Linked DNA regions of Homo sapiens: region 1 is linked to region 2. The links come from fine-mapping of genetic effects on gene expression. A gene starts in region 2. The other region holds a variant in brackets. All regions are shown on one strand. Distances are from middle to middle. Region 1 holds the start of CACNG6 (calcium voltage-gated channel auxiliary subunit gamma 6). Region 2 holds the start of CACNG8 (calcium voltage-gated channel auxiliary subunit gamma 8).

Region 1 (15,952 bases), 35 kb after region 2:
AGCCAACATATTGAAATCTTGTCTCTACCAAAAATACAAAAATTAGCCGGGTGTGGTGGTGCACGCCTGTAGTCCCGGCTACTCAGGAGGCTGAGGTGAAAGGATCTCGCTTGGGCCTGGGAGGGTGAGGCTGCAGTGACCCGTGATGGCACCACTGCGCTCCAGCCTGGGCGAAAGAGCGAGACTCTGTCTCAAAAAAAAAAAAAAAATTGAGAGACAGCAAATATTTGCTGGAAGAGGGAGAGGGAACTGGTTAGGGGAGAATGGATTCTAGAGTCTGAAGGCCAAACAGAACGAGAGAGAGAGAGAGAGAGAGAGAAAGAATGAGGTTGAGGGTAGGCAGGAGGAAGAGCAAGATGGGGAGGGAGGGGGAGAGCAGGAGAGACCAAACTAGTAGAGTCACAGACAGAGAAAAAGTCAAAGACAGGAAGGTGATACAGAGGAGAGAGAAGAGGAAGAGGAGAGACTGACAGGTGCACAAATCAGAGAAGTCCCAGAGATAGCAGAAACACACACAGAGACAGAGATAGAGAGGGAGAGGTAAGCCGGAGACAGACTCAGAGATTCGCACAAAAAGCAACGTGGAGACTCAGAAGCAAGCGCAGCGTCAAGGAATGCTCCATTTCTGGTGTGTTGTTTTCCCAGTATTCAAGAAATATTTATTGAGTGCCAACCTGTTCTAGACCCAATCTCGGCCAGGGGATGTGGTGGCAAATAGACGGACAAGGGCCTGCTCTCCTGAAACACACTGGAGAGATAAACAATAAATAATATCATTTCAGTAACCAAAAAGTGCTTTAAAAATTAAGCTGAAGGCCGGGCGCAGTGGCTCATGCCTGTAATCCCAGCACTTTGGGAGGCCGAGGCTGGTGGATCACTTGAGGTCAGGAGTTCGAGACCAGCCTGGTCAACATGGTGAAACTTCATCTCTACCAATAAATAAATAAAGTAGCTGGGTGTGCTGGTGTGCCTGTAGTCCCAGCTACTTGGGAGGCTGAGAAAGAAGGATCACTTGAACCCAGGAGGCAGAGGTTGCAGTGAGCTGAGATCGCGCCACTGCACTCCAGCCTGGGCGACAGTGAGTGGTAACAGAATGACAGAGCAAGGATGACTTTAGATGAGGTCCTTGGAGTAGACCTTGTGGCAGAGGTCACAGAGATGTGGATTGTGAGTAGGAAAGAGAGGTGAGAAAGTCTGGGGGCCAGGCATTCCACCCACCAGAGGCAGCCCCAAAGCCCAGAAAAGTAGCAGGTCTTCGAGGAGGCCTGTGCGGTGAGCAGATCCACCATAGGACAGAGGCACAGGGTAGGGGCTGATCAGTTAGGGCCTTGGATCCTTGGGAAGAAATCTGAATTTTATTCTAGATCTGATGGGAAGTGCTTGGAGGGTTTTGAGCACAGGCATGCCATGATCATATTTTTATTTTCTTATTTATATTTATTTTGAAAAAGAGTCTTGCTCTGTCTCAGGCTGGAGTCCAGTGGGCTGATCTCGGCTCACTGCCAACCTCCGCCTCCCAAGTTCAAGTGATTCTCCTGCCTCAGCCTCCTGAGTAGCTGGGATTACAGGCATGTGCCACCACGCCTGGCTAATTTTTTTGTATTTTTAGTAAAGACGGGATTTCACCGTGTTGGCCAGGCCAATCTGAAATTCCTGGCTTCAAATGATCCACCTGCCTCGGCCTCCCAAAATGCTGGGATTACAGGAGTGAGCCACTGCGCCCGGCCTCATATTTTTATTTAAACAAGAACAGCAGAATTACATTGCTGTGCTGAGCATACGTAGACTTCAGGAGTCAAAGGGGAAGGAAGGAGGTAGCGGGCTGTTGCCTTCCTCTGGTTGCTGGAGGCCTGGACCAAGGTGGAGTTAGTGGGATGGAGGAAGTGGAAGAAGGCATGGGATTTTGGAGGCTAGAGCCTGCATTGGTGGTGAACTGGATGTCATAGAGGAGGGAAGGAAAAGGAACCAGGAAGAGAAGAACTCTCTGAATTGGGCACGCACATCTCTGATGGGCACCGATGAGGATTGTTACCAGGAACGAGGAGACTGGGATCAGGAAAGTGGCTTTGGGAGGGAGGAACCAAGGCTTCTCTTTTGGATGTGTCAAGATAGATCTGCCTTCGAGAAATCCGAGTTGTGGTATCAAATAGCCAGTTGGATATGTGAGACTGGAGTTTGGGGGAAAGAGAGGCCGTGGCTCAAAAACGTAAGTTTTGGAAACGTCAACATAAAGCCACAGGATTGGGTGACGTGGCCTAGCAGGGGGGTGGGGACAGAGAAGCGACCCTGGCCAGAGCCTTGGGGACATCTACATCTGGGGGAGAAGGGGATGTAGCAAAACGAGCTTAGGAGTGATCTCGAGGTAGGCTGAAACCAGGAGGGTTACAGAGGGCAAATGCACCTTTGTGTTTCAAGAAGGAGAGGAGACAGCCAGCTGTGCCAAGGGCTGCTGAGACTTGGACAAGGATGCAGAGAGCAGAGTGACCATTAGGTCTGATGACATGGACAGGGTTGGTGATCTTGATAAGATAAGATGTCAGTTCAGTGCAGTGGTGGGGACAGAAGCCCTGCTGGAGTGGAGGGGAGAGAGAATTTGGGGGGAAGACAGAAGGAAAGGGAATTCAGGCAAGTGTGTGTGTGTGTGTGTGTGTGTGTGTGTGTGTAACTGACACAAAGGCCAGGTGCGATGGCTCACGTGTGTAATCCCAGCACTTTGGGAGGCCGAAGTGGGTGGATCACTTGAGGTCAGGAGTTCGAGACCAGCCTGGCCAATATGGTGAAACCCCGTCTCTACTAAAAATACAGAAATTAGACAGGTGCGGTGGTGCACACCTGTAATCCCAGCTACTTGAGAGGCTGAAGCAGGAGAATCTCTTGGGCCCAGGAGGCAGAGGTTGCAGTGAGCCAAGATCACACCACTGCACTCTAGCCTGGGTGACAGAGCAAGACTCTGTCTCAAAAAAGAAAAAAGGTAAAAAAAAAAAAAAATGACCCTGAAAGGAAGTAGGGAGACATGCAGATAGGGAGATGGGAGGCAGAAAATTGCATCCTGCAATTAGCTGTCACAGCAGGCAGGAGCAAGAGAGATGGGGAAGCCCAGGGCCAGGAGGGGAAGATGAATTCAGGGGGCAGGGAAGAGAGGATGCTGTCAGCTAGGCTCTGGCAGATCCCCTAGCCAGGGATGCTCTGCCCAGCTCCTGTCTCTTGCTGCTGTCAGCGCCGGGCACACTCTGGGATTCCCCCTGTAGACCCTGTCAAGACCTATTGAGGTGAAGGGGAAGAACACGTTTTCATCATTCATTTTCAGAAATAAACATTCACTCAGTTCTTGGAAATACTTTCTGGCCAGGCTTGGGGGCTCATGCCTGTAATCCCAGCACTCTGGGAGGCCAAGACAGGAGGATTGCTTGAGGCTTGGCGTTTGAGACCAGCCTGGGCAATATAGTAAGACCCCGTCTCTACAAAAATGAAAAATGAGCTGTGGCGTGGTGGCTCACGCCTGTAGTCCTAGATACTCGGGAGGCTGAGGCGGGAGGATTGCTTGAGTCCAGGAGTTTAAGGTTGCAGTGAGCTATGATTGCACCATTGCACTTCAGGCTGGGCCACAGAGCAAGACCCTGTCTCAGAAAACAGAAAGAAAGAAAGTCAAAGAAATAAAGTCAAAGACAAGAAGGTGATACAGAGAAGACAGAAAAGGAGGAGGAGAGAGACTGACAGGTACACAAATCAGAGAAGTCCCAGAGATAACAAAAACACAACCACAGAGATAGGGAGACGTAAGCCGGAGAAAGACCCAGAGATTCGCATAGAAAGCAACGTGGAGACTCAGAAGCAAGCACAGCATCAAGGAATGATCAATAAAAAGAAAAAAAAATATTTCCTGAGGACTTCCAAGTACAAGGCCCTGCAATCTCAGGCCACTTCTGTCCCATCTCTGCCTTCAGAGGGGGGGACAGGTAGTCCAGACAATTAGAATACAGAGGGGGCTGTGTTCTGACGGGGCCACGCGGGCATTGAGGAAACGCAGCAGGCCCCTCCCCTAGCTGGGGCGGGGATGTCTGTGTGCCATCATCTCACTCCATCTGGTCATTCCTTTGCCCATTCATCCATCCATTCATTCAAGTCACCCCATGCACATTTTCCAAGACTGCCTGTGACCTGGCCCTGTGCCGGGTAGAGCTGAGGATGCCAAGGTGAATTCCTCCTGTGCCTGGCCCCGGCCCCAGTCTGCTGGAAGAACCAGACACAGACAATCACACTGCGGGGAAACACGTGCTCCATCGGAAAAGTCCAGAGCAGGGGGTGGGCAGAGAGGCCCAGCGTGCACCAGAGCCTCGCTCAGGTCAGCGCCAGGCCTGCCTGGAGCAGCCAACTGTGGGAGAAGAAGGAGTTGGTGAAAGGTGGGTCCCACCTGGGCCGTCCACAGAAGGGCTGAGGGGTAGGGGGTGAGGGGTTGAAGATCAGGCCCTGCCGCCATGCCACACGGCTGTCCTCTGTCCCTGCTCCTGGGGGAGCTGAAACTGCATGGAAGGTCCCCCAGGGGTGCCCCGTCTAATAAACTCGATGAAGAGGAGTGCTGCTTTCATTCTGTGCCCCTGACAGCCGGCCCTGCCCTGAGGCCTGCGCTTTCTCCAACATGGAAATCAGGCCTTCCATCCTTCAAGACCCAGGGTTCTGGCCCCAGTCTCCTCCCTGAGGCCCAGGACTCTGGGTCTGCCAACGCCTTGACCAGGAGTCCAGGCTCCCCGGCCCTCCTCCTCCCTCAGACCCAGGAGTCCAGGCCCAGCCCCTCCTCCCTCAGATCCAGGAGTCCAGGCCCCCTGCCCCCTCCTCCCTCAGACCCAGGAGTCCAGGCCCAGGCCTTCCTCCCTCAGACCCAGGAGCCCAGGCCCCCAGCCCCTCCTCCCTCAGACCCAGGAGCCCAGGCCCCCAGCCCCTCCTCCCTCAGACCCAGGAGCCCAGGCCCCCAGCCCCTCCTCCCTCAGACCCAGGAGTCCAGGCCCCCAGCCCCTCCTCCTTCAGACCCAGGAGTTCAGGCCCCAGTCCCTCCTCCCTCAGACCCAGAAGTCCAGGCCCCCAGCCCCTCCTCCCTCAGACTCAGGAGCCCAGGCCCCCAGCCCCTCCTCCCTCAGACCCAGGAGTCCAGGCCCCAGCCCCTCCTCCCTCAGACCCAGGAGTCCAGACCCCCAGCCCCTCCTCCCTCAGACCCAGGAGCCCAGGCCCCCAACCCCTCCTCCCTCAGACCCAGGAGTCCAGGCCCCCAGCCCCTCCTCCCTCAGACCCAGGAGTCCAGGCCCCCAGCCCCTCCTCCTTCAGACCCAGGAGTTCAGGCCCCAGTCCCTCCTCCCTCAGACCCAGAAGTCCAGGCCCCAGTCCCTCCTCCCTCAGACTCAGGAGCCCAGGCCCAGCCCCTCCTCCCTCAGACCCAGGAGTCCAGACCCCAGCCCCTCCTCCCTCAGACCCAGGAGTTCAGGCCCCCAGCCCCTCCTCCCTCAGACTCAGGAGCCCAGGACCTAGGAGACCAGGTTCCTCTCCTCTCAGATCCAAGATTCTGGGTACCCAGGCCTTCTTCCTCTACCACTCAGAAGTGGGGTACCGAGGCTTCTTCTCCCTTAGGGACCCAAGACTCCTGGCCTCAGGCCCTCCTCCCTGAGACCCGGGGCCCTGCCTCCCGCCCCTCCTCCCTGGTAACCCCAGTCAGACTTGCTGCCCCGCCCGTCTCCTGCTGCCCGGGAGACTGCGGAGCTGGGACTCTCGGCGCCGCTCTTGCCCCTTAGTGAAATGAAAGTCCCATCAGGCTCGGCCCCTTCCTCCCCGGGCGGCCTCCCTCCCCCCTTCCTCGTCCCCTTAAAACACCCGGGATCCCTATGGCAACAGGCGCCGGGCGACAGGTGCGGGTGTTATTTACGGGTCAAGCCCGAAATAGCCCCGAGGGTGGAGGGTGGAGGGTGGGGGGTGGGCGGGTGGGGACGAGGCCGGGCGCGGGCGGAGGCCAGGCCGGTGGCGGTGGCGGGCACAGCCGGACGCTTCGGAGGCAGCGCGGAGCTGGGGTCGGCGCGGGGCCGAGGCAGGAGAGCGAGAGGGGCCCCTGCTCGGGAGTCGGGGGTGGGAGCCCCGAGGGGGGGCCCTGGCCTGGGGCTGAGCCTGGCGCGAACCCGACCGGGAAGGCCCTGGGAGCCCGGGGGAGGGAGACGGACTGATCCCGAAGGGGCGCAGCGTCTCTTGCGGGTCGCGGTTGGCCTTTGAACCCTGGGGGGACTCAGTCCTGGTTTTCCGAGCCGCAGTGCGGACCACAGCCCCATAGTGTGAGCCCCAGGAGGGCCCCCGGTCCCATCTGCCCCAGCCCTCGGGGAGGCCCCGTAGCCTCCCGCCTCTGGACTCCACTCTGTCTTCCGGCCACCGGCCCCTTTTCCAGGCTCAGTAGAGACCTCGGATCTTTTCTGAATGGCAGGGGAGACCCCTATCCCCTTTTCCTGAATTCCAGCGAGGCCCAGTCCTCTTCTGAGCCCCAGCCAGGGCTCTGTTCTTCTCCTTCTGTGGATGCCGGGGTCCTACTGCCTCTCTTGAGACCCGGATTGAATTCCGACCTCCCCTTGGGAGCTTCCCGGGACCCCAGGTCTTCCTTTTCCGAATCCCAGAGGGTCCCCAAGTCCTCTGTTCTCAAACTCTGAGCCCAAGGGAACCCCGGCCACATCTCCTCCAAACACACACAGGACCTCAGGTCCCTTCCTGGGTACCCCAAACTCTTAGCCCTAGTGGGGTGCTCAGATCTCTCAGGAAAACCAGTTTCCCTTTTGTTAACCCCCCAGCGGGGACCCCAAAGCAGCCCCTTGGAGCTGCAGGGAGCTTCAGCGGGCACCAGTTCTCATTCCTCTGGAGCTCTTGGGGGGACTCCCTCCTGGGAAGCCGAATTCTATCTCTAAACCTCAGGGTGGGGGCCTTGTTTTTCCTCTGGGCCCCGTCTTCTTTGCCAAGTTCTTGAGGGCAACCTAGACCCTCCTCTGAACCCCAGAGGCTTCCCCAGCCCTGGGGATC[A/G]TTTTTCTCTTCTGAACCCCAGAAGCAATCTCGACTTTCGCATTTGAGATTCCAGACAGGACTCGGCTCTCCCTCTTTCATACCCAGGGGAAACTGAGTCCCTCACCCCCTTCAAGACCCCAGGCCGCTCCTCGCTCCCGCCCCTCGAGGCCCTTCGCCGGCTCTGCCTCCTCCCCCTTCCCGACCCCACCGGCCATAAGATGATGTGGTCCAACTTCTTCCTGCAAGAGGAGAACCGGCGGCGGGGGGCCGCGGGCCGGCGGCGGGCGCACGGGCAGGGCAGGTCGGGGCTGACGCCCGAGCGCGAGGGGAAGGTGAAGCTGGCGCTGCTGCTGGCCGCCGTGGGCGCCACGCTGGCGGTGCTGTCCGTGGGCACCGAGTTCTGGGTGGAGCTCAACACCTACAAGGCCAACGGCAGCGCCGTGTGCGAAGCGGCCCACCTGGGGCTGTGGAAGGCGTGCACCAAGCGGCTGTGGCAGGCGGACGTGCCCGTGGACAGGGACACCTGCGGCCCCGCGGAGCTGCCCGGAGGTGAGCAGCCGCCGCCCCGAGCGCAGGGCTTGCGTCCCACGGACAGGGAGGGAGAGGGGCCCGTGTCCGAGGAGAAAACCCGCCCCAGGGACAAAAGCCTGAGCCCGGAGGAGACAGCTTGCCTCGCAGTAAGCGCCAGTGCCCACTTCGTCCTCTGCTCTCAGAAACTGCTGAGAGATAGAGGGATCCCCCAGATATGGCCCAGGTCCCTCACGGGCCTACCGCCAGAGAACCTGTGCCTTAGAGCTTGCTTTCCTGCTACAGACTGTACCCCAAGACCAGAATGTGCCTACAGGGAGTCTGTGCCCCCAGGCCATCCTGTACCCCCAGACCAGGCTGTGACCTGAGACCCCCTCAGACGAGTCTGTACCCCTATTCTGCACCTCTAAAGAGAGCTTGTGCCCCCGCCTACAGCCTGTGCCCCAAGACCATCCTGTACCCCGACTATCCTGTACCCCCAGATGAGCCTGTGTCCCCAGCTACAGTTTCCACCCCCAGACTAACATGCACCCCTAGACCAGTCTATACCCCCAGACCAGCCTGCATCCTTACACCAGCCTGTGCCCTCAGATCAGCCTGCACCTCCACACCAGGCTATGGTCCCAGATGATTCTATGACCCCCAAAGTCCCTGCCCCCACACAGCCAATGTTCCCAGGCATCGCTGTGTCCCCCCAGACCAGCCTACAGCTCTAGAGAGAGCCTGTGTCACTAGAAAAATCTTGCCTGTGTCCCCAGACCCAGCCTGTGATTCCAGACACAGCTGGTGTCCTCAGATAGCCTGTGCCCACCCCAGACAGCCTGCACCCTCTGGAAGTGCCTGTGCCCTGGAGACAGCCCGTGCCCACTCTGCATGTGCCCACAGACAGCCTGTGCCCATGGAGAGACAGCCTGGGTTCCTGGTGTCAGCTTCCTCTTCCCAGCCTGGAGACAGCTTGCGCTCCCATCCTGTGAGCCCTGGGGAGACAGACGCCCACCCCAAAGCAGGATCTATGCCTGTTCCCCACCTACTGCTTCCACCAAACCAAGCTCTCACCAGACGCCTCCCAACACCCGAGGGCAGACCTTGTTCCTTCCCTGCAATGTTCTTCACTTCCTGTCCTCTCGCCTCCAAATGCCCAGACTGGACATTTCAGCGTTTCTCATTTTCTCCGAGAGACATTCCCATACTCCCTCCTTTCCCAAATCATGGCTGTTTTATCCCTGGGCATGGCAGAGAGCTGTTCCATACCTCCCTGACACGCCACGCCACGGCTTGTGCTTATACCAGGGGGACATTCTATACCCCTTGGGAACTGGATGAAATCTCCTTCTACCTCCACTGACCCATGGAAAATACCTGGCACTCCTCAGAGCCCATTTGGGCTGTCATATATTTGATCACCCATATGAGATCTCCAGCACTCTTCAGTCTCCAAAGACGGTCCTATCATCCCAGTGCCCCTCAAAGAATATGGCCTATTTTTCTGGGCTCCGTATGAGATTTCCCTCGTCCCTCACTTCTCCAGATGTGATATCTTATATGTGTAGAGTGCAAAATAGGATGTCCCAAGCCCTCGATAGGACAGTGGGATGCCAGGCCCCCCGGCTGTCTGAGCTACCCACTTGGTGTCCAGATGGGCTACCCTTGATCATTTTATTTCTGCAGATGGGCTGTCTCTGGCCCCTCAGGGGTCTCATAAAGGATGATCTCAAACTTTTGCAAAATGGGAGTCCCCAGTAATAAGAATAGTAGCTGCTTATGTAATGCCTGGTTCTCATCTCAGTGTTTTATGTACATTAACTCATCAAGCATCATAGCTAGCCTATGAGTCGTTATTATCACTCCCGTTCTAGAGAAGAGAAAAATGAGGGGGCGAGAAATCTCGGTGGCTCGGTCTATGCACCCAGGCTAGTTAGATGGAATTTGAAGCTTGGTTGCCTCTCTTCTCAACAACTGCATTATATCACATCTCACTGGTCCATCAAGAGATCCCAAAGGTCAAAGGTCCTGGGACAATGGAGGGGTGGCCCATCCCATCTCACCGCATTGTATGGGGTTCCTTGCATCCCTTGCTGTCCCCTCCATTGATCAGAAAGGACTTCAGTCTTCCAGCAGGGCCATTAACGTTATCTTACAAACCCAACCCCTCAGAGGACATCTCTCAATCTTCATTATCTCAGAGAAATATCTCACACTCACCACTGCCCATCAAAAGGCATCCCTGGCTCCCTTGGCTATAAGTATGGAATGTGGGGGTGACCCTTACCCTGCACTTTTCCAGATGGGATGTGTCATGTTTGGGGGTGGTCGAATTGGGATGTGCTAAACTATTAGTAGCCAAAAGAGGATGCCAGGCAACCTACATTGTCCCAGAAGGGCCGTCACACTTCCCTTGTGGATGTAGACCGTGTTTCCCGCAATGACTGCTTCAAAGAGCACCTGCACCCTTCGCTCAGTGACGTGAAGCACCCTTTACCTCTTTTTCTTTGAAATGGAGTTTTGCTCTTGTTGCCCCGGCTGGAGTGCAATGGCACGATCTCGGCCCACTGCAACCTCTGCCTCCAAGGTTCAAGCAATTCTCCTGCCTCTGTCTCCCAAGTAGCTGGGATTACAGGCATGCACCACAACATCCGGCTAATTTTTGTATTTTTAGTAGAGACGGGGTTTCACCATGTTGACGAGGCTGGTCTCAAACTCCTGACCTCAGGTGATCTGCCCGCCTCGGCCTCCCAAAGTGCTGGGATGACAGGCATGAGCCACCACGCGCAGCCCAGCATCCTCTACCTCTTGCTGCTGCATAAGAACTCACATATCCCACTCCTCCTGGCCGGACATCTCACCCCTTCACCTCCCCTCGGGGTACTTGGGGAGCGCCCGCCCACACCACCTCACCTGACTCAGGGATTGATTTCTTGTCCCTTCATATCCTTGTTCAAATTGAAAAGTTCAATTTTTCACATTCATGGACTGCCTGGTCCCTCTTCTATGGCCTTTACTCCTGTTATTCTCGACCTCTCTTCTCTCTTTCTGTGCCTCAGTTTCCCCATCTGTAGAATAAGAGAGTAGGTCAGGCTAGGTGAATTCTGAGGGAATTTCTGGGTCTAAAATGCACTTCAGAAAGTGCTCCCCTCCCTTCCTTCATTTCTCCTTCCTTCTCTCCCTTTCTTCCTTTTTCTGTCTTTCTTAACTTTAAAATTTCTCTCTCTCTCTTTTTTTTTTTGAGATGTAGTCTTGCTCTGTCACCCATGCTGGATTGCAGTGGTGCCATCTCAGCTCACTGCAACCTCTGCTTCCCGGGTTCAAGCGACTCTCCTGCCTCAGCCTCCTGAGTAGCTGGGATTACAGGCATGTGCCACCACTCCCGGCTAATTTTTGTACTTTTAGTAGAGATGGGGTTTCACCATATTGACAAGGCTGGTCTCGAACTCCTGACCCCAAGTGATCTGCCTGCCTTGGCCTCCCAATGTGTTGGGATTACAGGCATGAGCCAGCACACCCGGCCCTGTGCTTTGTTTTATATTATTTTTTCCTCGTTCTTTTCCAGCTCATCTCTTTAATGTGTTTGATATACACTCACAGATATGTATTTTGACTTGGAAAATATATAGTGTTAGTTTATATGTGTGTTTTACATAAATGAGATCATGCTATTGATTTTGTCTGATCTTTGGGATTTTTTTTTTTTTTTTTTTTTTTGAGATGGGATCTCACTCTATCACCCAGGCTGGAGTGCAGTAGTACAATCTTGGCTCACTGCAACCTCTGCCTCCCAGGCTGAAGGGATCCTCTTGCCTCAGCCTCCCGAGTAGCTGGGATTACAGGTGTGTGCTGCCACACCCAGCTGATTTTTTGTATTTTTGGTACAGACGGGGTTTCACCACGTTGGCCAGGCTGGTCTCAAACTCCTGAGCTCAAGTGATTCTCCTGCCTCGGCCTCCCAAAGTGCAGGGATTACAGGTGTGAGCCACCTTTCCTGGCCTCAATTTTTGGATTTTTAAATTAAATTATTAATATTAATTATCATTATTGTTTTGATCAACACTGTGTTTCTCAAATCTCTCCATCTTGCTTTAGGTTATTCTAATTCATGGCTATATGTACTGGAGAGATTTTCACAAGGACTGTCTGTGTCATTTACTTGTCTGTTCCCCATTAGATGGACACCTGACTTGATTCTGACTCCATGTTACTTATAAACAGTGCTGCTGTAAACATCTGCATATATATTCCTGTTTTGTTTTTTTTTTCTGGAGTTATACCCTGCAATGAAATTGTTGAGCCACAGGCTATGAACATTCTTCATTTCATAAAGTACCTCAGAGTGCCTTCCCAAAAGACTAGGAGTACCCGTTCATACACGGTGTTTCCTCTTATCTTTTCAAACGCTTGATATGACCCTTTTAATGTTGGCCAATCTAATTGATGGGAAGTGGTGGCTCCCTGCTGATTCCGGCTGCCTCTCTCTGATCCCTGGTGAAGTGGGGCATCTCTCCATGGACTTATGAGTTACCCAGGCTTCCTCTTTTGTGAATTACTATTCATACCCTTTGCCCATTTGTCAACTGGGTTCTCTCTCTCTTCTTGCTAATCCGCAGGAGCTCTTTGTGTGTTCTAGGTAGGAATCCTTCCTGAGACAGGATTCCTTTCTGAGTCTGTTAGTCTTCTGCTACTTGTATCTTGGTATCCTTTGTTGAATCAAGTGATTATCCATATGTAATCCCACTTGACCCTCAACAAACCCATACGAAGGGGCCAGGAAAGAGATTATTATCTCGTTTTAAAGAGGAGGAACTAGAGACCCAGAGAGGCTAATGGCGCACTTGGGGCCACAGGTCTGGGGCTCAGAGCCCCGGGTAGGAGTCCCAGCTCCTAGATGGCAGTGTGGTCGCAGGTGGCTTTCACACCTCTGGGCATCATTTTTCTCCTCTGTGTATCAGGGATGCTGATGTCCAAGTTTTAGGCTCCCGTGGGCTGTTAACTGTCCAGCCCTGAGCTTACGCAAGGGACCTCACATCCTCATGTCTGTTTTCTCTCTCCTGCTCCCACAGAAGCAAACTGCACCTATTTTAAATTCTTCACCACGGGGGAGAATGCACGCATCTTTCAGAGAACCACAAAGAAAGGTGAGAACTTTTCACCCCCTGCTGGGTGACAGGTGGGGGAAATGCTGAGCGTGCTGGAGGAGTTCTAGAGAGAGTTATCCCCTCCTCTGCTTTACCCCAGGGCAGGTCTCGTGTCTATAATCTGTGGCTGTCCCCTGGGGAGTGCTGGCGGGAGAGTTAATGATGGGGACATGGTGCTCTAGAGAATCTAGAGAACTCTTTTTTTTTTTTTTTTTTGAGATGATGTCTTGCTCTGTCACCCAGGCTGGAGTGCAGTGGCACAATCTCGGCTCACTGCAACCTCCGCCTCCCAGGTTCAAGCAATTCACCTACCTCAGCCTCCTGAGTAGCTGAGACTATAGGCGCCCACCATCATGCCCAGCTAATTTTTATATTTTTAGTAGAGATGGGGTTTCACCATGTTGACCAGGCTGGTCTTGAACTCCTGACCTCAGGTGATCCCTCTCCTCAGCCTCCCAAAGTGCTGGGATGACAGGCGTGAGCCACTGCACCTAGCTGTGCCTAGAGCTCTTACCCCATCTCTGCCTATGCCACGTTCTGTGTCACCCCGGGCAAGTCGCAGCCCCTCTCTGTGGGTAGCACTTGGACATCTCACAAACCTGCAGGCATCAAGTACTGACCACAGTGCTGGGCACTCCATCTGTAAGATCTCCAGTCCTCGCAGTAGCCCTGCAGGGTGGGGGCTTTATCTTCCATCTTCCAGAAGTCCAGGAATGGTTACAATTATTCTTCCCAGGAAAATTTTTCACCATGTTGGCCAGCCTGGTCTTGAACTCTCCTGATCTCAAGTGATCCACCCACCTTGGCCTCCCAAAGTGCTGGGATTATAGGTGTGAGCCACCGCACCTGGTCCACAGGAGGAAATTTAGGCTGAGAAGGGTTCAGCCTAAATTCCTACTGGAATCTGGAAAATCCTACTAGAATCTTCCATGTAGGAAGTAGTTGGTGAGATTTCCAACCTGGATCATTCCACTGTAGCACACTGCCTTTGCCATCGTCTCCCACACACCCCACTGCCTCAGCTTCCTCAACTGTAAACCAGTGGTAACCAGATCCTAAGTAATAGTTGGTAATTCTCAACTCTTTCTAATCCTGGCCCTCTCCTCCCTTTGCTCAGTGACTTTAGAGAAATAACTGACCCTTTCTGAGTCTTAATTCCTTCAACAGTGTAAGTAAAATGTTGGGCTGGATGATACTCTACTTGAAAATTCTTCTCTCGTCCCGAATCTTACATCTTCCTGGTTCTGGGTTCCTATGGGTGAATCCTCCTCATTCCCTACATCCCATGTTCTCTGCTTCTTTCCTCTCTCCTGCTGGCAGAGGTGAATCTGGCAGCTGCGGTGATAGCAGTGCTGGGCCTGGCAGTCATGGCCTTGGGGTGCCTCTGTATCATCATGGTGCTCAGTAAAGGTGCAGAGTTCCTGCTCCGAGTTGGAGCCGTCTGCTTTGGCCTCTCAGGTGAGGGTTCAGAGCCTGGAGGCTGAGGACATTGCATGCTGGGAGGATCTCCAGGCACTGTTGCATGCTGGGAGATGGGGTCTCTATGCACTGTTGCACGCTCAGAGATGGAATCTCTATGCACTGTTGCATGCTGGGAGTAGGGTCTCCACACACTGTTGCATGCTGGGAGTAGGATCTCCACACACTGTTGCACGCTGGGAGGTGGGATCTCCAAGCCCTGTTGCATGCTTGGAGTTGAGGGGAAGCCCAAGGGCTATAGTAGGTTCAAAGATGGGAGAACCCCAACAACCGGGCTAAGGATTGGAGGGTGTCCAAACATTGTTTTAGATTTGGACCTGGGATTTCCAATCACTGTTGCATGCTAGGCATTAGAGAAAGCGCAAGGACTATAGAGGTCTCAAAAATTGGAGAGTTCTAAGCCCTGTTGTTGGCTGGGAATTGGAAGCTGTCCAAACGCTTTTCAAGGTTTGAACATGGAGTCCCCAAACACTGTTTCATGCTGAGATGTTTTAAGCACTATAGCGTGTTGAGAGGTCAGGGAAGCCCAGGGGCTATAGCAGGCTCAAAGGTGGAAGAGTTCCAAGCCCTATTGTTGGCTCAGAATTTGATGGTCTCTAAATGCTCTTTTAGATTTGAGACTTGAGGTCTGCAAGGACTGTTGCATTCTTGGAGCTGAAGGTCTAAATAAAATGCTGCATCTTGTGAAATGTAGCCCTCAGTAATAAACAACACTTCAGTTTATTGTACTTCCAGTTCAAATCCTTACAACAGCACTATTAGGCAGGGCTTACTATCCCCCATTTTATTTACTTATTTATTTTTGAGACAGAGTCTCCCTTTGTCTCCCAGGCTGGAGTGTAATGGCATGATCTCGGCTCACTGCAACCTCCGCCTGCTGGGTTCAAGTGATTCTTCTGCCTCAGTTTCCCAAGTAGCTGGGATTACAAGCAGGCACCACCACGCCTGGCTAATTTTTGTATTTTTCGGTAGAGACAGGGTTTCACCACATAAGCCAGGCTGGTCTCGAACTCCTGACGTCAAGTGATCTGCCTGTCTTGGCCTCCCAAAGTGCTGGGATTATAGGCATGAGCCACCACACACAGCTTCCCCCATTTTATAAATGAGGAAATTGAGGCTCAGAGAAGTCAGATGAATTACTCATGGGCACACAATCAATGATGGCATGATGGCAGAGGTGGGATTTTAAACTCGGTTTTCTTTCTTTCTTTTTTGAGATGGAGTCTCACTCTGTCGCCCAGGCTGGAGTGCAGTGGCACGATTTCAGCTCACTACAACCTCTGCCTCTAGGTTCCAGCCCAAGCTGTGCCCTGAATCACTGTGTGGCCTTGGGAAGGTTCCTTTTATTTTCTGGGCCTTGGTTTTCTTCTTGGATCAAATGTTTTCTTTTCTTTTCTTTCTTTTTTTTTTTTTGAGACAGAGTTTCGCTCTTGTTGCCCACGCTGGAGTGCAGTGGCACAATCTCAGCTCACTGCAACCTCCGCCTCTCAGGTTCAAGCAATTCTCCTGACTCAGCCTCCCAAGTAGCTAGGATTACAGGTGTGTGCCACCACGCCTGGCTAATTTTTGTATTTTTAGTAGAGACAGGGTTTCATCATGTTGACCAGGCTGGTCTCCAACTCCTGACCTCAAGTGATCCACCCACCTTGGCCTCCCAAAGTGCTGGGATTACAGGCGTGAGCCACCGCGCCCGGCCAAGACTTTCATAAAACACTTTTATATCAACACCTTCCTGTGCACCCCCAGGGGTAATGCAGGTGTGAGTTTAATAATAACGCCAGCACCAAATTCCTACCAAGCTA
Region 2 (15,688 bases):
TTGGGCTGGATGGAGTGCAGTGGCATGACCTTGGCTCACTGCAGCCTCAACCTCCTGAGCTCAAGGCATCCTCCCACCTCAGCTTCCTGAGGAGCTAGGACTACACTCCTGGTTCATTTTTTAAGAATTATTTTTTGGCCTGGCATGGTGGCTCATCCCTGTAATCCTAGCACTTTGGGAGGCCAAGGCGGGTGGATCACCTGAGGTCAGGAGTTCAAGACCAGCCTGGCCAACATGGTGAAACCCCCATCTCTACTAAAAATACAAAAAATTAGCCGGATGTGGTGGCGGACGCCTGTAATCCCAGCTACTCAGGAAACTGAGGCAGGAGATTCACTTGAACCTGGGAGGTGGAGGTTGCAGTGAGCCAAGATCGCGCTACTGTACTCCAGCCTGGGCAATAAAAGCAAAACTCCATCTCAAAAAAATATATATATTTTTTGTAGAGTCGGGGGCCTCCCTATGTTGCCCAGGCTGGGCTCAAGCAATCCTCCCGCCTCAGCTTCCCGAAGTGCTGGGATTACAGGCATGAGCCACGGCGCTCTGCCAGCTGTGATAATCTGCAGGAGATTAGGGACCTCTTGGAGAGTCAGATAAAAGCTACGGACCCCCAGGAAAAAAATACTTATACTCACAATATTCTGTACATAATATCAGGGGCTTCAGTGACATCCCATTAGCTCTGGCAGAATGCCTTGGATGTGTGATTTCGAATCACAGTCTCAACAAGAGAGAGATCACTAACGGTATCCCTCTTCCCCTTCTACAGATGAGAGAATGAGAGAAGGAAGCTGCAGTGAGAATCAAGCTTTGGATCCGGGTTCCTTGGGGAGGCAAAGAAGAGCCGGAGTTGGAACTCCAGCCACCTGGCTCCCCAGCGTTGGAATATTTCCACTTCACCCTGAATGAGGACGTTTAAGAAACGCTGATCGACGCTTCCTGGTACAGCAGGAAGACATGCCACCACCACCCTGTTCCTCTTGAGGAAACACAAAGGCCCCAGCTGTTGTTGATGAGAAACACTCGCGCACCTGGGAAAAACCACACACTCAGGATGTGAGGCAGGGAGAAGGGTTGGATAGGGACAAGAGGTTGGAACTGGCTGCGTAGAGGGTGGAGACCCTAGAATATGTATCCACTCATTCCCTGACTCATTCATTTTCTCATTCATTCGTTCATTCATTCATTCATTTGTTCATCATCCCTGGACCCGAGGGCTCCTGTCCATCAGGGCTGAGCTGGGATCTAGGGGACACGGAAGTAAATCAGACCCGTGCCTGTCCTTGAACAGCTCCGGCACCAGTGCGGAGAAGACCGACCCACATGTCAATCACAATATAGCCTTGCTGTGGCTTTAAGGAGCCAGTGCAGGCCTGGTGGGAGCACTGATGTAGACCCTGATGGAGGCTTGGGAGGTCAGGGAAGGCTTCCTGGAGGAAGGAGCGTGTAAGTTGAATCTCAAGAGTGGATAGTGCCAGGTGCAGTGGCTCTGTAATCCCAGCATTTTGGGAGGCTGAGGTGGGCGGATCGCTTGAGCTCAGGAGTTTGAGACCAGCCTGGGCAACATGACGAGACCCCCTTCTCTACCAAAAATACAAAAAAAAAAAAAAAAAAAAAAATAGCCGGGTGTGGTGGTGCTTGCCTGTGGTCTCAGCTACTGGGGAGGAAGAAGTGGGAGGATGGCTTGAGCCTGGGAAGTCAAGGCTGCAGTGAACCAAGATTCCACCACTGCACTCCAGCCTGGGTGACAGAGCAAGACCCTGTCTCAGAAAGAAAAAAAGAGTGGATAGAGGGTTTGCCATATGGCTGAGATGGAAGGGGATTCCACGGAAGAAAACCACCCAGGAAACCCTCAGAACAGGAAGGAGCTGGGAATGGTAGGGAAGACACCTTCAGTCTGCAGGAGGCAGCAATGGGGGCGGCATACGATGAGACTTGTGCTCTTGGCAAAAGGACATAGGTGAGGAGCTTAGATTTACTCCTAAGGGCAATAGGGAGACATAGGAGAATTTTATTTTATTTTATTTTTTATTTTTTATTTTTTTGAGATGGAGTCTTGCTCTGTCGCCCAGGCTGGAGTGCAGTGGCGTGATCTTGGCTCACTGCAAGCTCCGCCTCCCGGGTTCACACAATTCTTCTGCCTCAGCCTCCCGAGTAGCTGGGACTACAGGCGCCCGCCACCTCGCCCGGCTATTTTTTTTTGAATTTTTTAGTAGAGACGGGGGTTCATCGTGTTAGCCAGGATGGTCTCGATCTCCTGACCTCGTGATCCGCCTGCCTCAGCCTCCCAAAGTGCTGGGATTACAGGCATGAGCCACCGCGCCCGGCCGAGAATTTTATGTTATTATTATTTTTTGGGAGACGGAGTCTTGCTGTTGCCCAGGCTGGAATATAGTGGCACAGTCTTGGCTCACTGCAACCTCCGCCTCCCAGGTTTAAGTGATTCTTCTGCCTTAGCCTCCCAGGGAGCTGGGATTACAGGTGTGCGGCAGCACACCTGTATTTTTAGTAGAGACAGGGTTTCACTATGTTGGCCAGGCTGGTCTCGAACCCCTGGCCTCAAGTGATCCGCCTGCCTTGGCCTCCCAAAGTGCTGGGATTACAGGCGTGAGCCACTGCGCCTGGTGAGCTCTGGGTCTCACAAGGCTGAAGTTAAGATGCCGGCTGGCTGTGTCCTCTGCTGGGGATTTGGCTAGGGAGAGAACTACTTCCAACCTCCCACAGGTTGAGCAGAATTCATTTCCTTGTAGTTGTTTGGCTGAGGTCTCTGTTTTCTAGTTAGCAGTTGCCACTCACTCTCAGGTCTTTGCCATGACAAGACAGTTTGCTTCCTCAGGGTTCTCAGCAACTCCTTTGCTTTGGTTATTTCTGACGTCTTGATCCTTTCCTAAGAGATCACCTGATTAGGCCAGGCCCACCTGGGATAATTTCTTTTCTTTTCTTTCTTTTTTTTTTTGAGACGGAGTCTCACTGTTGCCCAGGTTGGAGTGCAGTGGCGCGATCTCGGCTCACTGCAGGCTCCGCACCCCCGGGGTTCATGCCATTCTCCTGCCTCAGCCTCCCGAGTAGCTGGGACTTCAGGCACCCGCTACCTTGCCTGGCTAATTTTTTGTATTTTTAGTAGAGACGGGGTTTCACCGTGTTAGCCAGGTTGGTCTCAATCTCCTGACCTCGTGATCCGCCCACCTCAGCCTCCCAAAGTGCTGGGATTACAGACGTAAGCCACTGCGCCCAGCCGGATAATTTCTTTTTTAATGAAGTCAACTGATTAGGGACCTTAATTATATTTACAAAATCCCATACCTTGCCATATAATGTCACATAATCATGGGGACTGCATCACCTCCTAGTGACAGCTCTTGTCCACACCCAAGGGAAGGAGATTCTCTTGGGTGTGTACACCAGGCGGTGGGAATCTTGGAGGTTATTTTAAAATTCTGCCTATCACAGTTGGAAGTGAGGACCGAGGACCTTCTCAAGGGAAGGGATTAGCAAACCTATCTCTAAGTCTGCAGGCTCTAGGTCTCTGGGTCAAGCCCAGCAGAGGCCTTGGCTAATGTGAAATGAATATGTGAGCAAATGTAGAAATGAGATCTTATAAAAGTCTACAACCTGCTTCTTCTGTGACACCCCTTCTGAAGGGGCCTTCCATGAGCTGAAGGAGTGATCAGTGGGTTCAATACTCCCATCCATCTATCTTTCTTTCTTTCTTTCTTTCTTTTTTTTTTGAGACAGAGTCTCACTCTGTCGCCCAGGCTGGAGTGCAGTGGCATGATCTCAGCTCACTGCAAGCTCCACCTCCTGGGTTCACGCCATTCTCCTGCCTCAGCCTCCCGAGTAGCTGGGACTTCAGGCGCCTGCCACCACGCCCGGCTAATTTTTTTTATTTTTTATTTTTAATAGAGACGGGGTTTCACCGTGTTAGTCGGGATGGTCTCGATCTCCTGACCTCGTGATCTGCCCGCCTTGGCCTCCCAAAGTGCTGGGTTTACAGGCATGAGCCACTGCGCCCGGCTTTTTTTTTTTTTGAGACAGAGTTTCACTCTTGTTGTCCAGGCTGGAGTACAGTGGCACGATCTTGGCTCACTGCAACTTCCACCTCCCAGGTTCAAGCGATTCTCCTGCCTCAGCCTCCCAAGTAGCTGGGATTACAGGCGTGCACCACCATGCCTAGCTAATTTTTGTATTTTTAGTAGAGACGGGGTTTCACCATGTTGGCCAGCCTGGTCTCGAAATCACGACCTCAGGTGATCTGCCCGCCTCGGCCTCCCAAAGTGCTGGGATTACAGGCGTGGACCACCACACCTGGTAATACTCCCATCTTTCAAAATGAAGTGAAGAGATGCTATCTCATTCCTTAAACTCATTCTACAAGTTCACTGCCAGGTATGTGCCCAAGAGATATGAAAACATATGTCTACACAAAAATGTGCACACAAATGTTCACAGCAGCATTATTTGTAATAACCAAAATGTGGAAGAAACTCAAATGTTCATTGATACATGAATGAATAAATAAAATGTGGTATCTCCCGCTATACCATGGAATGTTATTCTGCCATAAAATGGAATGAAGCACTGGCTCATGCTACAACATGGATGAACCTTAAAGACATTACTTACTTAGCCTGAAAGCAGCCAGACACAAAGAACCATACGTTGTATGATTCAATTTCTATGAAATGTCTAGAATGGGAAAATCTATACCGACAGAAAGTACATTAGTGATTGCCTAGGGCTGGAGTGGGTGCTTAGATTGGGGGTGATGGCTAAGGAGTACACAGTATCTCCTTGGACTAATGAAAATATTCTAAAAGTGATCTGAAGTTGATGATTGCACAGCTCTGTACAATTAAAAGCCGTTGAATTGTACACTTTAAGTGGGTGAATTGCATGATATGTGAATTCGATCTCAATAAAGCTGTGAAAAAAAGAGATATACTCTTTAGTTGTTGAAATAAATCATGATGTAATCATGCATCACTTAGTGTCACAAAATTACCAATAGAAGAACTAACACTTGAGGAAGAAGGGAAGGAAAAGTGAGGGCTGCATGAATTGATTTGTTATCTATTAGAGAAAAAATATCTATAAATAATGTATAATTTTGATTCCAAAAGAAAATCATTATTTAGGGATGTCAAGGCAAGTAAGAGAAGAAATAGCTAAGAATATTAATAGACGGCCGGGTGTGGTGGCTCATGCCTGTAATCCCAGCACTTTGGGAGGCCGAGGCAGGCAGATCAAGAGGTCAGGAGATCAACACCATCCTGGCCAACATGGTGAAACCCCATCTCTACTAAAAATGTAAAAATTAGCTGGGCATGTTGCTGCATGTCTGTAATCCCAGCTACTCGGGAGGCTGAGGCACAAGAATGGCCTGAACTCGGCAGGCAGAAGTTGCAGTGAGCCGAGATTGCGCCATTGCACTCCAGCCTGGCGACAGAGTGAGACTCCGTCTCAAGTAACAAGAACAAAAGCAAAAACAAGAATGTTAATAGACTTTTCCAATAAGGAAAAGGACTTGAGGTGGAACAGGCTAAATTATTTTTATTGTAGTCCCTTGTGTACCATTTGATTTTTTTTCTTTTCTTTTTTTAAACCATGAGCCTATATTGATTGGACTAGGAAATATATTTTCATTTAAAATAAAATAAAGAGGTTTCCCCCAGTTGCTAGTTCGTATAATTTAATAGTTCTCAACAGGGGCGATTTTGTTCCCCAAGGGACATTGAGCAATGTTTGGAGACATTTTTGGTTGTCCCCAAATGCTATTTTTAGGGTGCTATTTGGAGGTGCTATTGGCATCTAGTGGATAGAGGCGAGGAGTACTGCTCAGCATTCTACAATGCACAGGACAGCCTCCACCACACAAAATTATCCAGCCCAAATGTTGAGAACGTTGAGATTGGGAAACCCTGGCTTTAAAAAATTATCTTCATAGTCGTTCTCACCAGTGCAGTTGTATCAGCACAGGCTCTGGAATTTGATGTCCTGATGAATGTCCTCCAATACAACTGACCTCTCAACCTCAGTTTTCACATCTTTAAAGTGGAGGCTGCTAACAGAACCCACTTCTTTTGAAGATGGAACCAATACCCTCAGGCTCCTTGGAGTCTGTAATATTAAATGCCCAGTTTGTTTTTATTTTTATTTTTTTCGAGACGGAGTTTCACTCTTGTTGTCCAGGCTGGAGTGCAACGGTTCGATCTCAGCTCACTGCAGCCTCCACCTCCCTGGTTCCAGTGACTCTCCTGCCTCAGCCTCCCAAGTAGCTGGGATTACAAGCATGCACCACCATGCCCGGCTAATTTTGTATTTTTAGTAGAGACGGGGTTTCACCATGTTGGTCAGGCTGGTCTCAAACTCCTGACCTCAGGTGATCCGCCCGCCTCGGCCTCCCAAATTGCTAGGGTTACAGGCATGAGACACTGCACCCAGCCTAAATGTCCAGTTTATATTGGTTATCATCATTGTTTGCTGATGTATCTCCCCCCGCATCCCCCAGCAAAAGAGCAGAAAATAATCAACTTTCCTCAAACGAATGAATTCCAGACCCCTTCCCTTGGGGGCTGTGTTTCTTAGCTTCTAAACCAGGAGTGTTGGAATGCATGTCTAAACTTTCTCCCATGGGGCGGGGTGAGAATTAAGTGAAACGACCTAAAGAAATTTCAGTAGAAATGTGAGATGCTGGGGACTGAAAGATATCGCCCCTCCAAAGGAAGGAACCAGCAGGAGCAAACACTAGGTAAATAGATTTAGGGAACACAGGTTATTCCTGTTTCTGCCAGCCCCCAGGAGGGAGCAGTAAAGGTGTGCTGGGTTAAATGACTATGAATTTCACCTATTGTTGGCCGCCCTCCACCCCCATAACCCCTATTGTCTCAGAGCCTCAGGTTACTCATGGTTAATGTAGGAACATTGGTGCCCACACGGCAAAGATTCTGTAGGACTTCTGTAAGACAGCGAAGCATGCCAACAGCCTTCAATCAGCCATGGCTACTAGTTCTTAGTTTCTGATAACATTTTTACGAGGATCGGGTCTTGAGTAAACGGCTTGCCTAGAGCCACGTGCAATCCCACTTCCCATCCGCGTTCTCACTTGGTTGGAGGCAGCTTCTGTGCCCTTTATAACCAAGAGCAACTGAGTATAGAGGAGAAGAAGTGTTTTGTCCAAGGTCACACGAAGCCTTGGGAGCATCCGTGAAATTTGGACCCAAGACCGAACTTTCAGACTCTGATCTCAGACTTTCCACCTCCGATTGTTCCACTTCCCCAACCTACTAGCTAGTTCTAGAACGGACAGATCCATGCTTCTCAAAACTGTTGCATAGACCCCTACCCAGTCCCAGACAAGTTTCTTTAAGACATATTTGCACCCAAGCTTTTGGCATTCTACTCTCCTTCCCAGCCCCAGCCCCATCTCGGGGGCATCTAACTCTACCCCTTCTTCCCCATCAGGTTTGAACTAGGGGAGGGGAGGGGGATGAGAAGAGAAAAGAAAAAATTGTTGGTGAAAGTCAAAAGGCTTGTTAACGTGGTAAGTTCAATATTGTTTTATCTGGGGTGGTGGGGGGGGAATCTTTGCCCTCGCCACTTGGAGGAGGAGCGGTGGGAAGACCCCGGGAAGTTGCGCTTTCCCTTGGATTTTGGGAAAGGGGAGCATTCCTGGGGTCCTTTTGAAAAGGCCCTCCCCTCATTTCCGGCCGCCGCTGCCAGCCTTGGCTGGGCGCCTGGATCCTGTTGCTATGACGACAGGAAGAGGCGGTGGCGGCGGCAAGCGATGCTGAAGAGAGATGGAGGCTAGTGGGGGTGGGGGTGGTGGCATTGGAATGGGGGAGGGGGCAGGGATCCGGGGCTGGGGACGCGGGAGGGGGCGGGGGCAGGGGTATCCTTCATCTCTGACCTCCTCGGGGCTTCTCAGCCTCACCCCTCTCCCGTTATTTTTTCTGGGCTTCCTTCGGGTGCATCCCCAGTCTCTGTGTCTGCCTCTGTTTCTCTGGATCTCTCTCTCTTCCTGTCTCAGTCCCTCTCCGTCTGTCTCTCTCTGGGTCTCCCTCTTTTCCTGCACTTGCCTTTCTTTCCCCAGGTACCTTCTGCCATCCAGGCCCTTCTACCCTCCATTTCTTTCATTTACTATCTTGCTCCCCCGCTCCCTCTCCGCATCTTCTTCTCTCTTTAAAGCTTCCTTCTCTCTAGCAAGACCTTGCCCCCATCCCCAATTTCTCTCCCTACCCGCTCTCCATTTCATTCCCTCTCCCCCCTCTCTCCCCCATCCTCTCAGTCTCTCTCTTTCTGTCTGTCTCTCCCCATCTGTCCCTCCTCCCTCCTCTCTGGATGACTCTCTCCCTCTCTCTTCTTTCCTTCTGTTTCCCAGATCCTGACCCCCCCCACACACACACTTACCCCAGCCCTCCCCCACCCCCTCCCCCCCAGCCCCTGCGTTTCTCTCTTTGAGTCTCTGTCCCTGTCCCCTTCTCTCTCTGGATATTTCTCTGTGTGTATCTCTCCAACTTCCTTCTGCTTCCAGCCGCTGCCTCCCCCAAATTTCTCCCTCCCCCATTTCTGTTTCGCGGTCTCTGGGTCTCTCTCTTTCCGTTTCTCCTCGTCTCTCTCTGTCTCTCTCCCTCCCTCTCTGGATCTCTCTCTTCTCCTCCGGCTTCCTTCTGCCACTCGACCCTGCCCCCCTCTTTCCCTTCCCCCATCCATCTCCTCTCCGAGGCTCCCCATCCCTCAGCAGCTCCCCTCCCCCTCCCTCCCTACTCCCTCCCTCTCGTCCTCCAGCTCCGCACTTTACCCAGCGACACGAGAACCAAATTGTCTCCTCACCTTTTTTTTTTAATATATATATCCCGACCCTCACTCCCTTGGGGCCCAGGCTCAGAGCTGCCCCCCAGCCCCAGCCTGACCTCAGCACCCCCATTCCCCATACGCCTCCTCATCTCCACTCCCCGAACCAGGTCGGACGCCTGGGTCCCTCACTGCTGGGGGAGGGGGAAGCAGCGAGAATTGGGAGCCAAAAGGTTTTTCTGGGGGGGGTGCCAACAGGGGGGGCTCGACGTCCCCTCCTCCGTGCATCGGAGAGTTGACCTATCATTAACAGAGGTGAGACAGATCTTTTTATTAATCGGAGGTGGGTGGAGGTAGAATTAATGTTCTGTGATCCCCCCCCCCGAATTCTGGAGAAAAGAGCTGGTCCCCTTCCTAAGGAGAAAGGAGAGTGACCCCCTCATATCCGGAAGCTTTAGAATTGGGGGTCCCCAGCTCTCTTCTCCCTGGCAGCTGCTGAACGATGGACTAAGAGTCCCTAAAACCAGATTGTGCCCCAAATTGACAAAATGAAAAGATCTTCGAATCTTTTTTTTTTTTTTTGGACGGAAGGAGAATTTCCCTCCTTTCCCTCCTCTTCCCTTCCCCTCTTATCCCAGGTTGTTAGGGGCCTGGGGTCACAGGCTTACCCCACTGAGAGCAGATATCTGTTAAGACAGGGTAGGTGGCCCTGCTGGTGGTGAGGGGCACCAATTCGGGGAGAAGAGGCCAAGAGATCAAGAAGAGAGGAAACTCAGCATGCGGACAGAAAAGAGAGGAAGGGGCCGGCGCCCAGGCCGGGAGGCTGGGGGTTGCCCTGTCCAGCGGGCTGCTGAACTGTGGCCTGAGGAAGGGCTGTGTGTGGGCAGACGGGAGTTGAGGTGGGGGAGGGAACACAACGTGTGGGGCACTAGGCCCAGTTGCCATGGAGACACCCCCCATAGACAACCTTTTTCCACAGCCCCTCCTCGGAGCAGCCCCAGTCTGAGGCCAGCTGATGGGGGGCAGTGGAGACGGGCAAGCAATCAGGAGGCCAAGGTCACCCTGTACTGGGACCTAGGTTCTGGTTTTTGTTTTGTTTTTTTTTAATCCCCTCTTCGTCTAAGGTTTCCAGGCTCTTAACTATAGTGGGTTTGGGGGAAGAAGTTGAAGAAGCAGTGTGGAAGCAAGTAAGGAGTACATCCCCCAGAGGACAGTTGGGGTGGGGGAGACAGGCAGGGCTGGGGGCATGGTGGTCGGGGGAGAATGTGGAAGAGAGAAATGAAGGAGCCACGGGGCAGCGGGTGCAGGCTGGGAAAGTATTCCTAATTGAAAAGAGAGTTGTAGTCTTGCGGATCACATTTTTCAGAGGGACACAGTCTACTGGGGGGGCTCTTTCTGCATGTGGAAGAAGATGAGGGGCTACAGTGTGTGTTCCTGTACAGGTGAAGTCGTAGAGGGGAGTACTGGGGGGCGTTCCCAAGAAGGGAAGCCTGTGGGGGCCTGCGGAGGGGATTTTCCGGGGCAGAGGAGAACCTGGGAGCTATAGCGGTGGAGCAAGAGGAAGTGAGTCAAGGGAATTCTATATGATGAGAGAGAAGTTGGGGAGGATGCTTCCTGGTACATTGAAGAGAGAGTGGGCTTCAAAGTGAGTTAGGGGGATCTCAAGTTGGGGGAAACAGTGTGCTGAAGATCCCGTGTGATGATGAAGGGCTACGAGGAGGGGATTTGGAGGCAGTGGGAGCTGCTGTGAGTGCAGAGGGGCGGGTGGGTGGTACAGTGTGCCCCCTGCTATGGGAGTACAGGGCAGAGATTGGAATGGTCCTGAGTGGAGAGACATTTGGGGTCTGGAGGAAGCCATTCTTGCGAGTAGAAAATGCCGTGGAACTCACGGAGGAAATTTTTCTTAATGGAGGAGAAAACGATGGTTATGATATGAGTTCGTTTAAGTTGTGGGGGGGGGGGTGGCGGGGTGGGAAGATTCAGAAAACTCTTCTAAAGCAAAAGAGAGGGTGGGGGTTTTCCTGGAGTAAAGGCATAGTATGGGGTGGGGAGTGAGTGGCTTGTGGGGAGACAGTGGGGGCTGTGACAGGGAATGGGCTGGAGATGGCGGGGGGGGGGCAGCTTGCAAACCAGTGGGTCTGATGTTGGGTGCATTAGAATTCCCCAGGGAGCTTTTAAAAACTTACATGCGCAGGCCACACTGCAGACCAACCATGTCGGACTTTCTCAGGTGGGACTCAAACATCCGAATTTTTAAGGTCCTCGGGTGATTTCCAGGTGTGTTGGAGGCTGCCCGAGGCAGGAAGGGGGCTTCCAGGGAGAGGAGGCTGACTGAGGGTGGCTGGTGATTCCGAGTTGCACAAACTGTGAGGGTCAGCTGGGATTTTCTTTTTCTTTTTCTTCTTCTTTTAATTTTTCCTTTTTAGTTGAAGAGAGGTTGAGAGATTTATTTTTTCCTAAGGAGAGGAAACTGTGGGGGACCATTTGGAGTGATGGAATGACAAAAGCCAGACCGGAGGGGGCTCGCGGAGGTTACTCCCACGGAAGTGGTGCTACTCGGGCTTCTTAAGTTGTGGAGACGCTCAGGGAAAAGTTGGGCTGACAGGGAAGGGTTCTAGCGGGTGGAGAGGTGGGGCTTGCAGGGGAAGAGTGGGGAGAGCTGGTGGGCGCCGCATGGTGATGGGGCGGGGGTCGCTAAGGAAGGAAGAACGCGACGGGGGCTCCTGGGGAGGAGGCGGCGGCGTGGGGCTTGGCATCATGGCGGGGGGTGGCTTCCCATGCGATGAGGATCGTGGAGCCCCCTGGGGCGGAGGCGGCGCGGGCTAGGGGCGAGGGCTGTGAGTGTGAGCGGTGGTGGGGACTCCTCCGAGTGGGGTTAGTGGGATGGTGGGACGACTTTCTTGGGCAGAAGACAGGAGTGGAGAGAGATTTCATCTTATTTATTAATTATTAGCGGTGGTGGGGACTCCTCCGAGTGGGGTTAGTGGGATGGTGGGACGACTTTCTTGGGCAGAAGACAGGAGTGGAGAGAGATTTCATCTTATTTATTAATTATTAGCGGTGGTGGGGACTCCTCCGAGTGGGGTTAGTGGGATGGTGGGACGACTTTCTTGGGCAGAAGACAGGAGTGGAGAGAGATTTCATCTTATTTATTAATTATTAGCGGTGGTGGGGACTCCTCCGAGTGGGGTTAGTGGGATGGTGGGATGACTTTCTTGGGCAGAAGACAAGAGTGGAGAGAGATTTCATCTTATTTATTAATTATTATTATTATTATTATTATTATTATTATTTTTGAGAAAGAGAAGCAGTGGAGCCCCGAGTGGAAGGAGTTTCTGGAGCTGAGGCAGGGATTTTGGGGGGGGGGGGGCGGGGACTGGGGGAGGTACCTGTGCCTTCTTCTCCTCTAATGCGAGATCTCGCTCCTTGCCCTCCACCAGCCGCCGACCATGGCCGCGCTCTGACCCCCTCCCCGGCCGCAGCCTCCTCCTCGCCGCCCCCCTCCCCAGCCCCGCCGGCCCCGGGCCCCCCGCTTCTGCCTGCGCTGTGAACCCCCCCCCAGCCGCCGGCACGGCCCCGCCCCCGCTGCCCCGGTGGTGGCCCACGGCCCCCCGGCTGCCCGTGGTCAAACTGGAGTCGCTGAAGCGCTGGAACGAAGAGCGGGGCCTCTGGTGCGAGAAGGGGGTGCAGGTGCTGCTGACGACGGTGGGCGCCTTCGCCGCCTTCGGCCTCATGACCATCGCCATCAGCACTGACTACTGGCTCTACACGCGCGCCCTCATCTGCAACACCACCAACCTCACGGCCGGCGGCGACGACGGGACCCCCCACCGCGGGGGCGGCGGCGCCTCGGAGAAGAAGGACCCCGGCGGCCTCACGCACTCGGGCCTCTGGAGGATCTGCTGCCTGGAAGGTAGGGTGCGGGCGGCCCTCCCCGCAGCCCCCGCCGCTCCCCTCCGAGAGACCCTGAGCCTCCCGGGGCTGCCTGTCCCTGATCCTGGGGCCCCCTTGGGCACCCCTCCTCCTCTGCCAGAGGGGCTTCTGCGCCTTCCCACTCGCGCCCCTGACCTCCTCTCCCCTCCTTCCCACTCCTCCCTGCGTCCTGGCACCCTGCGGAATTCCTCGGCATGCTCCCTCTGCAGCCCCTCTGCCTCTCCGCTGAACCCCCTTATCCTATCTTTCCCTAGTCCGTGTCTCCTGCGCTGCCCCATCACACCCCTGCATCTTCCCTCTCTCCAGTACCTGGGGCTCCTCCTGTTTCATTTCTTCCACTCTGCCCTGTGCCTTTTCTCTTTTTTTTTTTTTTTTTGACAAGGTCTCACTCTGTCGCCCAGGCTGGAGTACGGTGGCACAATCACAGCTCACTGCAGCCTCGAATCCCTAGGCTCAAGCCATCCTCCCACCTCTGCCTCCTGAGTAGCTGGGACCACAGGCATGAGCCACTGTGCCCAGCTAATTTTTTTTATTATTTGTAGAGATGAGGTCTCCTGTTGCCCAGGCTGGTCTCGAGCTCCTGAGCTCAAGAGATCCTCCTGCCTTGGCCTCCAAAGTGCTGGGATGAAGGGCATGAGCCACTGCACCCAGCAGCCTCTTTCTCCCTCTTTCCCGTCAGTTCATCTTGACCCTGCTCCTCCGCTCCACCTGCCCCTTCATTTCCTCTCCCTCGTGCCCCGTGACATCTTCTCTCTCCCGACATTTCCCCCCCAGTCCTCTGAAGTCCCCTGCCTCTCCCGCCCCCTTTCACGGCCCAGTCTTCCGGTCTGTCTCTTTCCCCTTCTCTTTGGCTGCTGCTCCCCTGAAACTTCGTGCCTTAACTCGCCCTCACTCATGACTTTCTCTCTTTTCTGCCTTGTGCTTCTCCTCCTGTTCATCTTTCTCTTCCCATCAGTGCCCCCACCCATGTCTCTCCCACCAGGGTGCCCTCCAACCTCCCATCCTGGTCCTTTCCTCCTTTTTCCTTTAGTGGACTCCACTTCCTCTTCCTCCACTCATGCCTCCTTCGACGTCTTCCTGACTCGATGCCTCAGGCCTTCACGTTAAGGCTTCTCGCTCCTGCCCCTGCTACCTCCTCGGATCTTCGACTTGGTTCTTTTCCTCTGTCCTGTTCTCCCTCTCACAGCTTCTCTCCTAGCTCGGCTCCCTGGCTCTCGACTTCCCCACTTCTCCAAGACTCCTGCCCTCTGCTGTGCCAACCCCTTCTCTCTCCCACTCTTAGCATCAGTATTTCTTTCCTGAGTATCAAGTAGCTGCGGGGCTGGGAAGCAGGAGTCTTGGGTGCCAGTTCTGCTGCATATCTGCCCTGCTGTGTGACCACTGTCTTCCCTCCTGCACCCCAGCCTCACAGCCCTTGTCTGCAACGTGAAGGAGTGGAACCAGCCATCCTGATGCCCCCTTCGGCCAAAAGATTGAAATCTCTTGCTTCTCTTTTTCATCCCCCTCTATTTCCTCTGCCCCTTCTTCCTCTGTTTTGCTGAGTGTTCACGACAAGCCGGGAACGTTATCTCGTTTAATCCTATGAGGTGGGCACCACCTCGCTGTTGGGGATGGGTAAACTGAGGCTCAGAGAAGTGAAGTCACTTGCCCAAGGTCACCTAGCTGAGAAAGGGGCCGAGCCAAGAGCAGAACTCGAATCTCATGGATGGGATTCACAGATGCGCTCTGTCTAGTGTACAAAGTGTTTAAAACTGAAAGCAAAATCTGAATCCATTGCCAACAGTTAAAAATAGGGAGGCTTCCCATTGTAGTTCTGATTTCCGGCTTCTTCTGAGCTGGCGGAAGATCTAGCACAAGCCTGTGTTCTACCCTGACCACGATGGGCCGGATCTGAGCAGCAGCTGGGGGGTCTCCACTTCCCCACAGTCACCTCCATCTGCTCCGTCTCGCCTCCCATTCCTCCCACGGCTCTCGTGATGTTCTTTGCCTCTCCTGTGGAAGTTTGAGTTCATGTCCATTCACTGGTCTGACCAAGTACCAGGCATAGAGCCAAGTGTGAGGGCTCCCATCATGGGAGCCCTAGGACAGCACGTGGCATCTAGTAGGGATGTCATTCATTCATTCATTCGTTCATTCAACGTCCCATTTTTATTGAGTTTATATTATGTGCCAGGCATTGTTCTGGATTCTGGGGCTGCAGCAGTGGAAAACAAACAGACAAAACCTCCTGTCGTTATATATCTTATATTCTAAGGGAGAGACAGATAATGATGGAGGTAAAGTCAACCTTTAGGGTGTTAGATAGAACTGAGTGCTAAGGAGGACAAGGAGTTGGGGGAGGGGATGGGAGGGGTCAGGGATCCCCGTGGGAAGTAGATAAGGAATCTAGGAAAAGCTTCCCCGAGCAGGTGACATTTGATCACAGGTCTGAAGGAAGTAAGAGATGGAGGAAAGTGCTTCAGACTGTAGGAATAGCAGGCGCAGAGGCCCTGAGGTGGGAGTGTGGCTGTGTGTTGATCAAGCCAGTGTGAGGTCAGCGTGGCCGGGGCAGAGTGGGTGGCGGAGAACGTAGGAGTAAGAGGTGCAGTCGTAGGGGTATCAGGGTCCCCATCCCACAGGTTCTGTTTTTTAAAAATTATTTATTTATTTATTTATTTATTGAAACAGAGTCTTGCTTTGTCACCCAAGCTGTAGTGCAGTGGCGTGATCTTGGCTTACTGCAACTTCGGCCTCCTGGGTTCAAGCGATTCTCATACCTCAGCCTCCCGAGTAGCTGGAATCACAGGTGTGTGCCACCATGCCCGGCTAATTTTTGTATTTTTAGTAGAGACAGGGTTTTACCATGTTGGCCAGGCTGGTCTCGAACTTCTGACCTCAAGTGATTGGCCCGCCTAGGCCTCCCAAAGTGCTGGGATTACAGATGTGAGCCACCATGCCTGGCCAGCTTCTGTGTTTGTTTTTGTTT

What was found.
Region 1: its variant is fine-mapped to the expression of CACNG8 in whole blood (TOPMed, PIP above 0.99).

The regions. Positions count from the first base shown.
Region 1 is chr19:53,985,643-54,001,594 of GRCh38, forward strand. It overlaps CACNG8 (calcium voltage-gated channel auxiliary subunit gamma 8), which reads left to right. Exons shown (of 4, transcript NM_031895.6): 4 at 1-4,573. CACNG6 (calcium voltage-gated channel auxiliary subunit gamma 6) reads left to right here and starts at 5,995. Exons shown (of 4, transcript NM_145814.2): 1 at 5,995-7,566; 2 at 12,597-12,671; 3 at 13,992-14,129. The coding sequence starts at 7,236. The variant A/G (reference allele first, on the strand shown) is at 7,036.
Region 2 is chr19:53,950,723-53,966,410 of GRCh38, forward strand. It overlaps CACNG8 (calcium voltage-gated channel auxiliary subunit gamma 8), which reads left to right and starts at 12,215. Exons shown (of 4, transcript NM_031895.6): 1 at 12,215-12,703. The coding sequence starts at 12,421. RefSeq lists enhancers at 6,600-7,134, 9,345-10,245, 11,056-11,576.